2 linked regions of the Homo sapiens genome follow. The protein of the gene in region 2 purifies or fractionates together with the protein of the main gene of each other region. This does not show direct contact. Each region holds a gene or a part of one and is shown on either strand. Other genes may lie near its edges.

Region 1 (7,591 bases), on a different chromosome or scaffold from region 2:
GATATTCTTAGAAAACAGAACATGGAATATGTTAATAAAATCAAAAGGACACAGGATCACCTTTTAGAGTGACTAAAATCCAAAAAATACCATCAGCAAATGCTGGCAAGGATGTGAGGCAAAAGAAACCCTCATTCATTGCTGGTAGGAATGTAAAATGTAAAGCCACTTTAGAAGACAGTTTGGCAGTTTCTTACAAAGCTAAACCATTCAATCCAGCATCTGAACTCCTAGGTATTTACCCAAATGCATAGAAACTTTATGCCTACACAAAAATCTGCATGCAAATGTTTACAGCAGCTTTAATCACAACTGCCAAAACTTGGAAGCAACCAAGGTATCTTTCAACAGGTAAAAAATATACAAGCTGTGATACATCCATACAATGAAACATTACTTAGCAATTAAAAGAAATGAGCTATCAGCCATGCATGGTGGCTCACGCCTGTAATCCCAACACTTTGGGAGGCCAAGACAGGAAGATCACTTGAACCTGGGAGTTTGGGATCAGCCTGAGCAACATGGGTAAGACTCCATCTCTACAAAAAAATTTAAAAATTACCAAGGTGTGGTGGCGTGTGCCTATAGTCCCAGCTACTCAAGAGGCTGAGGCAGGAAGACTGCTCAACCTCAGTTCAAGGTTATAGTGAGCTATGACAGCACCACTGCACTCCAGCCTGAGTGAAAGAGTGAGACTTTCTCTAAAAAAAAAAAACAAAAAAAAGAAAGAAATGAAATCCCAGGCCGGGCAACATAGTGAGACTCTGTCTCTACAAAAAATAAAATTAGCCGGGCATGGTGGCACACGCCTGTGGTCCCAGCTACTTGTGAGGCTGAGGTAGGAGGATTACTTGAGCCCTGGAGGTCGGGGTGCAGTGAGCCATTATTGTGCCACTGTCCATGCAACAGAGCGAGAACCTGTCTCAAATAAAAAAAAATTAAAAAAAATTAAAAAAAGGGCCGGGCAGGGTGACTCATGCTGTAATCCCAGCACTTTGGGAGGCTGAGGCGCGCAGATCACGAGGTCAAGAGATCAAGACCATCCTGGCTAACACGGTGAAACCTCGTCTCTACTAAAAATACAAAATAATTAGCCGGGCGCGGTGGCACGTGCCTGTAGTCCCAGCTACTCAGGAGGCTGAGGCAGGAGAATCTCTTGAACCTGGGAGGCAGAGGTTGCAGTGAGCCGAGATAATGCCACTGTACTCTAGCCTGACGACAAGAGCGAGACTCCGTCTCAAAAAAAAAAAAAAAAGGAGGGAAAGAAAAGAAAGAAAAAGAAAAAGGGAAAGGAGAAAGGGAAAGGGAAGAAAGAAAAAAGGCACAGTGGAACCTTAAATGTATATTGCTAAGTGAAAGAAGACAGTCTGAAAAGGCTACATACGCTATAATTCCAACTATATGACATTTTGAAAATGCCAAAACTATATAGACAGTAAAAACATCAGTAGTTGCCAAGAAGTGGGTGTTGGGGGTGGGGATGAACAGGTGGAGCCCAGGGGATTTTTTAGACAGTGAAACTACCTTGAATGATCCTGTAAGGGTAGATATATGCTATCGTACATTTGTCAGTTCCACCGAATGTACAACACAAAGCTTGAATTCTAACGTAAATCATGGATTTTAATTAATAATGTATCAATATTGGCTCATCAATTGTTAACAAATGTGTCACAATAATGCAAGACTGGGGGAAAGAGGGAGGGAGTACTTAGAAACTCTCTGTACTTTATGTTCAGTTTTTCTGTAATTCTAAAATTGCTCTACAAATTGTCTATTAAAAACAAAGCCAAAAAAAGAATCCATGAGACACGGATAATGAACGGATAGATAAGCAGTTAAGAAGGGAGGGCTCAGGCGGGCACAGTGGCTCACACCTGTAATCCCAGCACTTTGGGAGGCCGAGGCAGGCAGATCACCAGGTCAGGAGTTTGAGACAAGCCTGACCAACATGGTGAAACCCTGTCTCTACTAAAAATACAAAAATTAGCTGGGCGTGGTGGCGGGCACCTATAATCCCTGCTACCCAGGAGGCTGAGGCAGGAGAATCGCTTAAACCTGGGAGGCAGAGGTTGCAGTGAGCCAAGATTGCGCCATTGCTCTCCAGCCTGGGTGACAGAGCGAGACTCCATCTCGGAAAAAAAAAAAGAAGGGAGGGCTCTTCCTTACAGTAGAATGCAGGTTGGTAATTGTGGAAAAAGTGGTGGGGGTGGGAAATTACCACTTTGCATAATTACCACTTTGCACTTAGCAGAGTCAAAACTGGTGCAGTCAGGAATCATGAATGGCTGAGAAATTTATGGGGGAAATTTGACAAGGAACAAGACATTTGAAAGATCTCCAAGTGTCTAGCCACAGATTGTCTATTGGAGACACCAGGCAGTGGACTACCATGACCAAGTGACCAAAATTACTCATCTTCCAATGAATATCGTACACCTCCAGATGTGACCTCTGAGGACACAACATCACTCACGTACTATTTCGGCTGTGGGTGCATAACCTGAATCTAATCATGAGGAAAGAGTAGATAAACCTAAATTGAAAAATATTCTATTGGCCGGGCACGGTGGCTCATGCCTGTAATCCCAGCACTTTGGGAGGCCAAGGCAGGAGGATCGCCTGAGGTCGGGAGTTGGAGACCAGCCTGGGCAACACAGTGAAACCCTGTCTCTACTACAATTACAAAAAATTAGCTGGATGTGGTGGCAGGCGCCTGTAATCCCAGCTACTCGGGAGCCTGAGGCAGAAGAATCGCTTGAACCCGGGAGGCAGAGGTTGCAGTGAGCCAAGATCGTGCCATTGCACTCCAGCCTGATAACAGAGCGAGATTCTGTCTCAAAAAAAAAAAAAAAAAAAAAATTAGCCAGGCGTGGGTGGCAGGCACCTATAATCCCAGCTATTTGGGAAGCTGAGGCAGCTGAATCGCTTGAACCTGGGAGGTGGAGGTTGCAGTGAGCCGAGATCATGCCATTGCACTTCAACCTGGGCAACAGAAACTCCGTCTCAAAAAAAAAAAAAGGAAAATATTCTACAAAATAAATGCAACAGATGATAAGTCACGAGCTGGATTCTAGTCTGGAGGAGGAAACAATTATAAAAGATATTATTAGAACAACTGGCAAAATTGGAATATAAACTGTAATTTCTTTTTTCTTTTTTTTGAGACGGAGTCTCGCCCTGTTGCCCAGGCCGGAGTGCAATGGCGCGATCTCGGCTCACAGCAACTTTCGCCTGCTGGGTTCAAGCGATTCTCCTGCCTCAGCCTCCTGAGTATCTAGGATTACAGCCGCATGCCTCTATACCCAGCTAATTTTTGTATTTTTAGTAGAGACGGAGTTTCACCATGTTGGCCAGGCTGGTCTCGAACTCCTGACCTCGTGATCCACCCGCCTCGGCCTCCCAAAGTGCTGGGATTACAGGCGTGAGCCACTGTGCCCGGCCCTATAAACTGTAATTTCTGTCACTTCTAAATTTTCTGATTTTGGTAACTACACTGTGAATACGTACATATTGTTATACACATTGAATACTGCTGCTCTTAGGAAATACACACTGATTAAGAGGTAAAGGGAAATAACAGGCAACTTACTGTCAAATAGTCGAGAAAAAAAATGTGTGTTTATGTGCTTGTATAATCAGAGAGAGAGAAAAAGAGAGAATCATAAAACAGATGTAGCAAAATGTTAAAAATTGGTGAATGTGGGTAAAAGGTATATAGAAGTTCTATGTACTTTTTCCCATAAATTTGAAATTATCTGAAAACAAAAAGTTTTAAAAAGTATGTTAATCTATTTTCTTCTGGCATAAACTTCCAAAGTGTTGCTGTGGAAAAGTCTGATAACAATCTAAATTCATTCCCTTATAAGTAACTTATTCTTTCTGCCCAATTGTTCAACATATCTTTCAAGTGTAGTAATTCTCTTAGAATTTGTCTTGGTGTTGGGTGTTCAGAGTCAATACTCTGAGATACACAGTGTGCTCATTAAAATGTGTATTTTCAATTAATTTTTTTAATTTCAGTAAAGCTTTCTTGAACTATACAGCCTTTACTATTTGTTCATTCAGACAGTTGATGGTAATATAAACTTAAGCCTGGCCAACATAGGGAGATCCTGTCTCTACAAAAAAAATTTTAAAATTAGCAGGGCATTGTGGTGTGTGACTGTGGTCTCAGCAACTCAGGAGGCTGAGGCAAGGGCATTGCTTAAGCTGAGGAGTTGGAAGCTGCAGCAAGCTATGATCATACACCACTGTACTCCAGCCTGAACAACAGAGTGAGACCCTGTCTCTATAAAATAATAAATAAATAAACTTTAAAACAGACTACAAATCTGAAAGTTCTATTATATAAAATAGTAACTTTATTATCCATTCATTCCAATATTTATTATCTATGATATGACAGGTATGCCTATTCTACAAAAATAAGAAATGGAAAATAATACCAAGTAGGTCAATTAATCATCTACTGAATTATTATTCCCCAAATGACTTCAGGTTGTTAGTAATACAGAGAAGCAGTATATTTTAGAGTGCTCAGTTTCCACCCATTATTTTGCCCTACAACTACCATTCTGTTTAATCTTAACACTTGAGTGGTACAGTGAAGAACTATTCTTTAATATACATAAAATTCAGCCTGCTAAACACTCTTTAAGAATGAGATGAATATTAAACAACTGAAATTCAATTAATAAGTTAGAGATCCACTTCCCACTGTTTAAAAAGGCACTTAGCACTATATTGACAGTAGAGTCAAATTTATTTTCACAGTAGAGCCAATTTATTACTATGCCATACCAAATTTAAATCAGAAAAAAATCATAACTCAATTTTTAACATTTTAAGACTACTGAAGAGCCAGAAATAAACACTCAGTAAGTATTATTAGATATATTACAGAACAATTTGAACAAAGATAATTATCTTACCATCTCCAAAAGTATAGCCTGAGTTTTAGCCTCTTTTTCTGCCTTTATTTCTTCTACTTCCTCAGCTGATCTTCCTTTGAAATCATCAATTTCTTCATCTGCTCCTATTCGACCACTCTGTTAAGACAGAAGTTACTCATGTATATATTTAAAGAATAAAAAAATCTGAGAAACATAGAAGACATACTTTATTCTTAGTTATATCAAACATGCTAAAACAGTAACTGATCAAGGTTGCAGTGAGCTACAATCACACCACTGCACTCCAGCTGGGTGACACAGTGAGATCTTGTCTCTAAAAAAAAATTTTTAATAATTAATTGGACAGCAACTGAGACAAACTTATAAACCTCCAAGAATTGATTTATATTAATTCTAAAATATTAGCCAAAGTGGGCTTCTGTTAAAATCAAAATAGGCCAGGCATGGTGGCTCGTGCCTGTAATCCCAGCACTTTGGGAGAACACGCAGGTGGATCACTTGAGGTCAGGAGTTCGAGACCAGCCTGGCCAACACAGTGAAACCCTGTCTCTACTAAAAATACAAAAATTAGCTGGGCGTGGTGGCATGCACCTACAATCCCAGCAACTCAAGAGGCTGAGGCACGAGAATTGCTTGAATGAGGAAGGCAGAGGCCACAATGAGCCGAGATCCCACCACGCACTCCAGCCTAGGCAACAAAGTGAGACTCCATCTCAAAAAAATAAATAAATATTTATATGGACACTATTTATTATCCAATTCTAACTGCTGAATGAAGAGAAATGATCTGACAATTAAGCACCAATCCCAACCATAAAGACAAATTCAGCTTTCAGGAAGCCACATAAACCTTAAAATATGTGGGGGAACAGTCTGCGCTGTTTCACAGAAATTTCTGGGTTCTAGCCTGGCTCCAGAGTGTCCCCAGTTGAAAAGTTACCTCACAAGATAACAGTTTAATTTGATGACAAGAAAAACACTTTCCCAAGGTGTTCATGTAAGCTTCTAGAGCTGAGGTTGTCTCAGTAGAAAAGAAACTGAAGAAAGGAAATTAGAGAAATGAGAAGACAGCTAGAAAAATGAGTACCTCTGTGGAAAAGAAAAAGAACTCCAAACTTGTTGAATATAATTAAGCAAGATAATAATTCGGAAAAAATTAACTTTAACAGATGAAAAAGATAAATCCATACAAATCATTAATATGAATGTACATTTAATCATAAGAGGGCTTTACTTACATCTAATTGTTCCCTTGTAGGTTCTGGTGATCGATCAGGGATTAATAAATCAGGAGGGTCATCAAATGGATCATCTAAAATCACCGTATGATTTATCCTTACAAAATAAATCCAAATCAAATGTTATACATTGAAGTTATTTCAGAATCCTATTTTATTTTAATAGATTACAAAAAATTACTTGATTATCTCTAAGGCCAAAAAAAACCCATATTGCATATGGATATTACTAACCTAGATATACTTTCACAATGAGTGTTACTGTTTTGCATTGAGTGATACCATATTTATCACCCTGCATTACTTTAAGATGTAAACTAATATAACTGTCTAAATCTTAGTACTTTTGCCCTACTTCTCAATTAAAAAACTAAATTAAAGCATTAACAATTCCTCCAGCTGGGTGCAGTGGCTCATTCCTGTAATCCCAACACTTCAGGAGGCTGAGGTGGGTGGATCATGAGGTCAGGAGATCGTGACCATCCTGGCTAACATGGTGAAACCCCGTCTCTACTAAAAATACAAAAAATTAGCCAGGTGTGGTGGCGGGCGCCTGTAGTCCTAGCTACTTGGGAGGCTAAGGCAGGAGAATGGTGTGAACCCGGGAGACAGAGCTTGCAGTGAGCCAAGATCGCGCCACTGCACTCCAGCCTGGGCAACAGCATGAGACTCCGTCTCAAAAAATAAATAAATAAATAATTCCTCCAAACATAATTATAAATAATTAGTACAAGTATAAAAATACAAAAAGTCCTTTTTATTATAAAGATTCTTACAGTCTTATATTAATTCACCTTTTGGGATTAGAATTATCCAGAAACCAGTCCTATGCATACCGTTCCTATCCATACCACTACGTGTTAAACATCTCAATATTAAAACATTCTAGTACATTCAGATAGCAAATTGTAACCATACCTGATATCCTGATATGGTACAAAGTCCTTGTCAACAAAGGTCTCATTAATTTTCTTAATTATGTCCATGCCTTCTGTCACCTCACCAAACACCGTATGGACACCATCAAGATAATCTAGATTTTCTCCTGTGGTGATAAGAAACTATAAAGAAGGACACATAATAAATACCATAAAAATAATACATAACTCAAACTGAAATCAGTTACAGACTGACAAAAAAATACATGAAAGTTAAGAGTCCACATTTACTGCACCAATTCTTAGACACTTGTTACCAAAACTAAGTAAAAAGTACAAAGCTTATACTGGCATACCTCATTTTATTGCACTTTGCAGATACTGCATTTTTTACAATTAAGGATTTCTGGCAACCGTGTATTGAGTAAGTCTATTGGTGCCATTTTCCCAACAGCATAGGCTCACTTCATGTTTCTGGCTCACATTTTGGTGATTCTCACAAGATTTCAAACTTTTTCATTACTATTGTATCTGTTATTACCATCTATAATCTTTGATC
Region 2 (8,527 bases):
TCAAGTGGCATGAAAGAAATCTAGAATCCCTTGTGGAATCTTGTGGAAGATGCAGAAGTCAGCTGAGGATTAAGCAGCAGCCTACTTACCAGGCAGTGGCTGTGGCATAAGGTGAACAGCCCCAAAGAAAAGGCTGTAGGGTGGATAGCCAACGTCAGGGGCCAGATGGAGGATCTGGCTGAAGTTTGGAGGGTTAGCTGCACTATTAGGAGCTAGGGTAGGAATCCCGAATAGTAAGTAATGAGAGACGACTGAGCTTCCTGACACAATCATTGTGTATTACTCATGCTGAGAGAATAAGCCATAAATTGTGAACATTTAAGCAGTGAATAGAGTGAGGCAAAATGAGCTACACTTCAAGTGGGATCTAGCAGAGGTTATAGGGATCAGATTTCTGCTCCTCGGTGCCATGAGTGAGTTTGTACTTTACATTGATTATTTGTACAAAAGAGACTTAATTCAGAACAGACTTTTATATTTTAATTGACAATGTTAATCCTCACCCTGCCAAAACTGTGCCTCCAACCAACTGGAATAGGTGCCCCAGAACACAATGAGATTAGTTAAACAGCTATATTTTTATAATTAACTTTTCAGGTGAGGCCAATTGGGTTTCATTATGTACATTTTCAAACCCCAATATATGTACAGAAGCTAGTAGATGAATTCTTCTTTTAAAAAGAGAGAAAAGAGAAAAACAGTCAAGTAAAGACTTTCCCAAACTATAGTAGACACCTTCATGTTTTGATTGTTCACAACTCCTCTAACTGCCCCAAATAACACTCTGTTTGATCATCTTCTTCCTAGAAAGCCTTTTTCTCCAATCTACAACTAGCTAGCTTTATTAATTCTTCCACATTCAGAGTAGATATTAGCATATCTAAATCTCATTAAGGAGTTTATAGAACTTTCTCTAAAGGAAATAGGTAGCAAAACAACATTCAATTAGTTTGTACTCAAGTTGACAATAGAAGATGTAAATGAAACAACTAGAAAACAATCCAAGGTAGATCATGGTGCTTTTGCTCATAAATGTGTTCATTAGATAAAGAAAGAATTTTGGAAGGAAGGATCTGTTTTGTAATCAGAAAAACAAAAACTGATTTACGAATTTGAATTGAAAAGTAGGTAAAGAATTTCAGTATTTACTCACGTATTCATTCAAATATAAAAGGGAACTGATTACCACCTCCACCACAACAACCATGTGTTATACGTGTACAAGGTTAGATCAAAGTGGTAGCTAAGAATATTACATTCTGCAGTTGTTCAAGGATGACAGTTGAGAAAGTTTGATGACAGAGGATAAAAATAACACTTGTTTGGGCATAAATGGCAGGTTTTTTTTTCAATGAAATATGTGAATGTTCCTCCTTTTACCCACAACCCCAGAAACCTAAGAAAATAATTTTGCAACATTAAGTTCACCACCTCATCGAATTATAATTATTCTTATTTTCTGAAATGAAAAAATAACTATGTTGTAAACACGAGAACAAATTGAGGCAATGATAATATATTAACTAACTATTGGGTTTAATTCAATTACTAGCTTTGCTGCACAATAAATAATATGCATAACCTCTGTCCAAGTATTTTTTTCCACAGTTGTAAAACAAAGCCTTTGACAGGAGTTAGTTAACAGCAATTTAGAGCTGCCTCTAAATTGCAGAAATAAAAATGCTCACAATTTGAATGTGCTTTGTTGACAAAGAGACTATGGCCTATTTTTTTTTTTTAAGTGGAATCTTCAGCTCCCAGATTGACAGTCAGTTACAAAGAGAGGAAGGCAACTTAAAGTTTCCTCTGGAGGGTATTATCACTGCAGTCCAGTATCAGCAGTGGGTAGAAACCATGTGCTCTATCATATTTTGACCTTTATACTTCAAGTCAAGAGAATCCTGAGCAAGGTCAGTTTTTCTATCCACCCAGTGTGCACTTTGCATAGATGTAAAAAAATTTTTTTCACAGAATTTGTTCTGTGGATTTAGTTTATGTTTGAATGAAATATGTTTCTTTTTATGCTGGTGACTTTACAAGAAAACAAGGCCAGGAGAGGCATTTCCTCAAATGCCTAAAGGAGACATTACCACCATCACCACTACTTGCCAAGCGATTTATAAAGCATCTTGAGGCTCAAGGTTAGTATGGGAGATGAGCCAGGCTCAGGAGAAGTTAACACAAAGATAAAGGTTAGTGTTTTTCCCCCTTTTAGTCAGCCAATACAACAAAGTACTTAGATAATAACCCCTAGCGGTCAGGTAATGATGTATTTTCTGCAATTATCACATTTGTGTTTGTCTATTTTCTTTATGCTAGTGAGGTTTGGAATTGGAATTGAAAATCCTCTAGGGAAAAGCTATTTTTGTAATTCAGCTGGGGTGTCCTTGTCTTTGGGTTTTCCCATTGCATCAGTCCCTTAGCCTGGCAGGATAGCCATGATAGTGCTTTGTCTTTTAGATGAAATGCAGAACTAAGGACATGACTACTGGTGCTTATTAAAGATTCCTTGCTATTTTTCACAAGAGTAGGGGCGTTAGACTCTTGTCTACTGGCCAAATTCTAAATTGGGAGATTACATTCTGCTTTCCTAAATTCCCCTAGCAGAAGCAGCCATCCATGGTATCCTACTTTGCTTCCTGTGCTAAACTGTTTTGTGATGTCATTAAATGGCTCTGGTTTTTTACTCTAGAAATGATCACTTTAGTGGGGTGGGGAGTAAATCGATACCTATTGTCTGATATTATGTTCAGTCTAGTTTCAAAAAAATTAAAAGGTAGCCTGTGGTAGTTAAGGACAAAGTACAAAACAAAACACCCTAACGTACAAAACACCCTAACATACCAGTTGTTGTGGTGCTTTTTAAAAAAACCAATCTGCTTTCTCTTCTGTAACATAGACAAAATATTAATGCATTTTTTTACTCCACTAGTAATTGACAAAGAATTGTTATTTGTTTCATACTTAAGGTTAATTCTAACAGTGATGAAGTTTGAGAGGATGAAATTACATATCACCGACCAATTAAACTATCCCTTTTGTCTTTAGGCTGCATCTAACCATTCCAGATTTTCATCTATCTATCTCATAAAATCTTTTTGGAAGGAGATTTTTCATCTTTCCTTGGTAACATATTTCAGTGTCTCTCAATCTTTCCATAAAAACTAAGTTCTTATTTCTGTTTAACCTCGGTTCCACCTGCTGGAGTGTAATGTCACTATCTTTTGTCCATCCTTAGCCTTGTTATCATATATTGTTAGTGAGAGGCAATGTAGTATAATGGCATGGTTTTTGGAATCAGACATGCCAGCATTCCAATCCTAGCTCTGTTACTTTCTAGGTGTGTGATGTTGGGCAAATTACTTCTGAGGTTTAATAGCCTCATCTGTTAATGAGTAACCTCAGAGCATTGTTGTGAAGATAAAACGAGATAGTATCTTATTCTGAAGGATTATGGGGTAGGACGAGGTATGGTATTGGAGACCTAAAAAGTGTTCAATACATACTATAATAGCTATTTATCTGATTATGTGCATGTATCTGACTTAATTCATAAACTCTTTTAGAGCGGGAGGCATACTTCCTGAGTACGCCCTGGATTTCAACAGAAGTATAGTGTTGTGCACATAGTATGGTGCAGAGGCTCAATATTACTGAATGAATAAATTGTTTTGTTTTTATTCCCTGAGTGGAATGAACAGCCCCCAGCTATCTGCAAGATCCCACGCATGTAGAAAAAAGGTGACAAAAATCAATCTGCAGTTTTTAAATATGCAGATACCTGACTTTATCTAGATGTTTTAGCATGGTGTAGATACAATGCAAATAACTTACGCTTTCTATTTCTATCACGTTCATTTCTACGAATTTTAACATTTGATTATTGTCATTATTTTTATTATTAAGCTGCACTTAGGCACCCAGAAAGGGACTGACTCATATGTCTCCTCATCCATCCAAGCATTTAATTGAGAAATTTTAAAAATGAATATTAAGAGCTAATTATATACTTGAACAAAATCTTTCAATTTGTGACTAAGTACATTACCTTCCCTATTTATCTCTAAGATCTGAGCACTACAGATAATATTCCTAATTGCTTTGTACCCAAGCCAAGAAATAAAAACCAAAACCAGAAAAGTCCACCACTGCAAGTCCCAAAGCACAATTAGTATCTTTGAACCAGTGAAGTATTAGTTAGGACTTTATTTTTGGCTTTTAAATGTTTAAACGGGGCAAGGAGGGTAAGTTGGGGGAACAAGTACAAGATACATAGATTCAGTCGGACTTGAATATTTCTCCATAAGGAAAGGAAAGAGTACCCTGGTGTGTGCTTAGGCTGGAATTAAAAAGACAGCAGCGTGGCCATTTCCTGGATTGCTTTGTACACACTTTACAGGGGCGGTCTCAGGTATGGAGCTCTGGGCACCTGCTCGCTCACACTCCAACAGTTCAGAAACCCGTGTATTTGAGGCCGGGTGGCTCAGGTTCCACGTAACTGGGCTTAAGTGTCATTAATACTGCTTGCGGCGGGGGGTTACTGAGCTGTGCTTTGGGACCTGGATGCTTACTTCGGACTTTCTCCTTTCTTCCCCCCTACCCCCACTAGTTTCCCTTTCCCTCCTTCCTTCCCGGGCGTGCCCACCTTCTCCCTTTGCTCCCACTTTCCGCTGTCTGACTCTTGTTTCCTTCACCTTCCTTTCTAATCGGCTTCCTGTCTTCCAACCTCTGCCGGCCGGAGAGATTGAGATTGGGGCTGGGGCTGGGGCTGCGGCTCAGAAGAGGCACGAGTCGGGCGGGACAGGCGCGAGGCGCCCAGCCGCGAAAGCGAGGAGCGCGCACCGAGGCGGGGGCGCGCGCGGGGCAGCCGCGTGGCTAGGCAGACGGGGCCGGGAGCGGCGCGCGCGCGCCCCGCCAGCCTCTGGCGCGCCCCCGGCGGCCTGAGCCGCAGCGTGCTCGCCCCCGCCGCCAGCTCGCCTCACTTATGGGTCGGAAACGCTGCGTGGGGGAGACTGTTCCAAGATGGCGGCGGGTTGCTGCGGGGTGAAGAAGCAGAAACTGTCCAGTTCGCCCCCCTCTGGCTCGGGTGGCGGTGGTGGCGCCTCCTCCTCCTCCCACTGCAGCGGAGAGAGCCAGTGCCGAGCTGGGGAGCTGGGACTAGGAGGCGCCGGTACGCGGCTCAACGGGCTGGGAGGTCTAACCGGAGGAGGTAGCGGCAGCGGCTGTACCCTCTCTCCCCCCCAGGGCTGCGGCGGCGGCGGCGGGGGGATCGCCCTGTCGCCACCTCCGAGCTGCGGAGTGGGGACCCTACTTTCTACCCCGGCCGCCGCCACCTCTTCCTCACCCTCCTCATCGTCCGCCGCCTCGTCCTCATCGCCGGGCTCCCGGAAGATGGTGGTGTCAGCAGAGATGTGCTGCTTTTGCTTCGATGTGCTCTACTGTCACCTGTATGGATACCAGCAGCCCCGGACCCCCCGATTCACCAACGAGCCCTAGTGAGTACCGTGCCCTCCGCCGCCCTCTCCCTTGCGCTCGGGATGGGGCTCAGAGTTGAGGCAAAGTGCGAGTCCGCCTCCCGGCCGGCGGATGCCCCTGCCCTCTCGCTGCCCGGGTCCCCGGAGCTACTCAACTGAACTAAGGGCACCCTGCGCTTTTTGCCCTCCGAGGCAGGCACCCCACACTTGGAGCAGGGTGCTGCTGCAAGGAATGGCCCCGTGGCTCCTAGAGGTGTTAGCTTTCTCTTTGCGATGACTTCGAGGAGTTTTGACTCCTTTACTTGTCTCCTTCACCACCCCCACCACCCCTCACCCTGCCCCGGTTTTGGAGATCTGGGTTACTCAAGGTGTTGACCTCTCCTCACTTTGGTTTCCATTACCCCAAGTGAAAGCCCCGCCAGTATTCCCGCCCCGCGTATCTTGCACATGGAGAACTACTATCCCATTGCAGGATGAAAAATAGCAACTATCCAACTTCTGTTAGTGATGGAACTTAGCTCTGGAGCTTGTGAGGTTACCCATCTTCTCCTCTGGGTTTTCTTGTGCCCTGGGAAGGGGGGAGGTTTCTTAAAACACATTTTTCCCTTACTACTTATTTTTATCCAAATACACCCATTAAAATGTGTTTCTCGTGTAGCGAGCGCACTGCCGGCTTCCTCACATTTGAAGAGTGCGACCTTTTTTTTTTTTTTTTCCATTCCACCGTCTGGATAATAGCTCATTCAAAGAGAACTGTCCCCACAGAGCCACGGTCAGTTTGTACATTAAGCGTGCATTCGCTTTTGTGTCGATTTCACTTTTTAAGAAATCCATGTTATACTTGATGATTTGAGAACAGTTAAATAGTAAATGTGTAGGAATTGTTATGGTTTCCTTTGGTTTTGTATCTTAAATTATTTTACCCTTCAAGTGTGTGGTTGAAAAATTTTAAAATAGCACTGTTACAGCTAAAAGCCAGGTTAATTCTAATCCCTGTCCATTTGGATGTGTGGGAGGTGGGGCATATGGTTTTTTTTTTTTAATGTGTAAACTGAATGTAAACTGACTTTTTGCGTTAAATGCTAGACAGAATGTAAAGACCAAGAGAGGGCAGAATGAGAAAAAGTGCAATTGCTTTTATTTGAGTACTTAGCATCAACAAGAAAAATAATACAGAAAAAATTTCAGTGAAACTCGTACTGAAAGGCATCAGCCCCTTTTCCAGCTAAGACAAGTGCCCCTTGTCCCCCATATCATAAATACCTGAATTGATGTTCTTTTAAAACTGCTCCTTTTCATTTTGTGAGATTAGAGGATTGGACTACTGTTGTATAAGTATAAACATTTCTGCCTAGACTAAAATATTAAATTAATATGTAAAGTGGAAATTACAATAAAGTGTCCTGGAAATTGTGCATTTGTACTGTTTGTTTTCTTTGGCTTTCATTCTTTAAATGTCTTTAATTTTGTATGACTCTTCTGTGGTCTGTGCATTTTCTTTTAGACTTGGTTAATCTTTGGGCATTGGTTTATGAGAAGTGCATGAAAGAGCATCCAGGAGAACACTTCGTCAAATAAATATCTTTATAAATTTCATAGTGTTAATTCTAGAAGCTTAAATCCTAAGTCCACACTTTTATTTAGCCAATTCATTTTTTTGGTTAAGAAGTAAAATTCATTTTGAAAAGACTGCCATGTAAAATAAATCTATGAAATATTTATTAGCTTGAGTCACTTATTTGTGACTTTTATGCCTTCTCTTGGATGTCTGTGATGTATTAAAGCTAGTCCTGGGATGATACTTAGGTTGGCTCTGCAAAGTCATGGGACTGCAAAAATTCACTCCTGTTTAGTTCTTGAGCTGTTAACATGAGTTTGGCAAAGGCTGCTTTAGTATTCACGCTCCATTGCTCCAAAGCATATGAGAACACACTTTCAGGAGGTGCTATTTTCACACATTTTACAGTGAGTTTGGGTTAACTCAATGACTATAACAAGAATTTTAAAAGGAAAGTGAGCTTGACCAGTTCATACAGAAAATGCTTTTGAAAATATCATTTTAACAGTAGCCACTTTGCACACGTATTTAGATATTATTCTATTCAAACACCCCAGCCCCTGGATTTCTTTTTCATGGAATTAAGCAGATGATAGGACACACTTTGACCACTGTGGATATGTTGAAACGGTGGTGGAAGAATAATAACTATTATCATCTAGCAGACCTTGAATGTGTCATGTATTCTATAAAACAACTAATGTAGAGTAGACACTAAACATGACCAAGTGGAGAATGAAAGTTCACTTAAGTGGAAAATGGACTGTCTTATTTCCATTTATCTTCAACTCATTTTTGAGGTGTACTGTGGAAAATTCAGGAAAACTTCCTGATTATGGGAGGGACATAACTAAGCATTTCAACAGTGCCTTAGTAACTACCACACATTTGTCTTTCTGTTTTACATATTTAACAGCATTGTGTACTTATTAGTGTTGCTTTATCCTAAGTGCCATAAGACATAAACAGACATATTGGGATTTTTTTTTCTCATAGTTATTATCATGTCATGAGCAGTGTGTTTCAGGTCATGTCTCTGCCCACCAGATGTTGTGCTTTTGACAGTTTTAACTTCTCATACGTAAACGCACACTCTTTTCATCCTTTCCCAGGACTTTTCTCTCAGAATGTCTGTAACTGGTGAAATCCTCGTTTTATGGGTTTAGAAGCTGTAGATCCATCAGTTAGTTATCCTTCCACTCAGTATTGAGGGGATGTCAATATATGAACAAGCTGTATGGATACAAATTCTTCACTGTTGCCCCCATGTTTTGATTACCTACCCAATTGCAGAAAGCATTGTACAGGCAAGTTTGTGCACAGAAATCTGGTTAAAGACATGAGGAAAACTTAACTTTACTGCATTTTGATATTCAAAATCAGCACTCTTGGATTTATGTAGGGAGCCCAGATAGCTATTTTATAGGAACCTGTTTGCTACTATAAAGGGATCCACTGTGCCAGGTGTTGAGCTAGTTAGACTCCAGAGCAGTCA

Evidence for each region.
Region 1: the proteins of AMMECR1 (region 2) and PPIL4 purify together in Homo sapiens (affinity purification with mass spectrometry; 2 studies listed by BioGRID and IntAct, with this or other methods). This does not show direct contact.

Annotation. Positions count from the first base shown.
Region 1 is NC_000006.12:149,528,524-149,536,114, forward strand, and holds part of PPIL4 (peptidyl-prolyl cis-trans isomerase-like 4), read right to left. Parts: intron 7,216-7,591; coding exon 7,073-7,215; intron 6,252-7,072; coding exon 6,155-6,251; intron 5,052-6,154; coding exon 4,935-5,051; intron 1-4,934. UniProt on the Homo sapiens protein: PPIases accelerate the folding of proteins. It catalyzes the cis-trans isomerization of proline imidic peptide bonds in oligopeptides.
Region 2 is NC_000023.11:110,314,567-110,323,093, reverse strand, and holds the start of AMMECR1 (nuclear protein AMMECR1), read left to right. Parts: upstream 1-5,008; 5' UTR 5,009-5,022; coding exon 5,023-5,495; intron 5,496-8,527.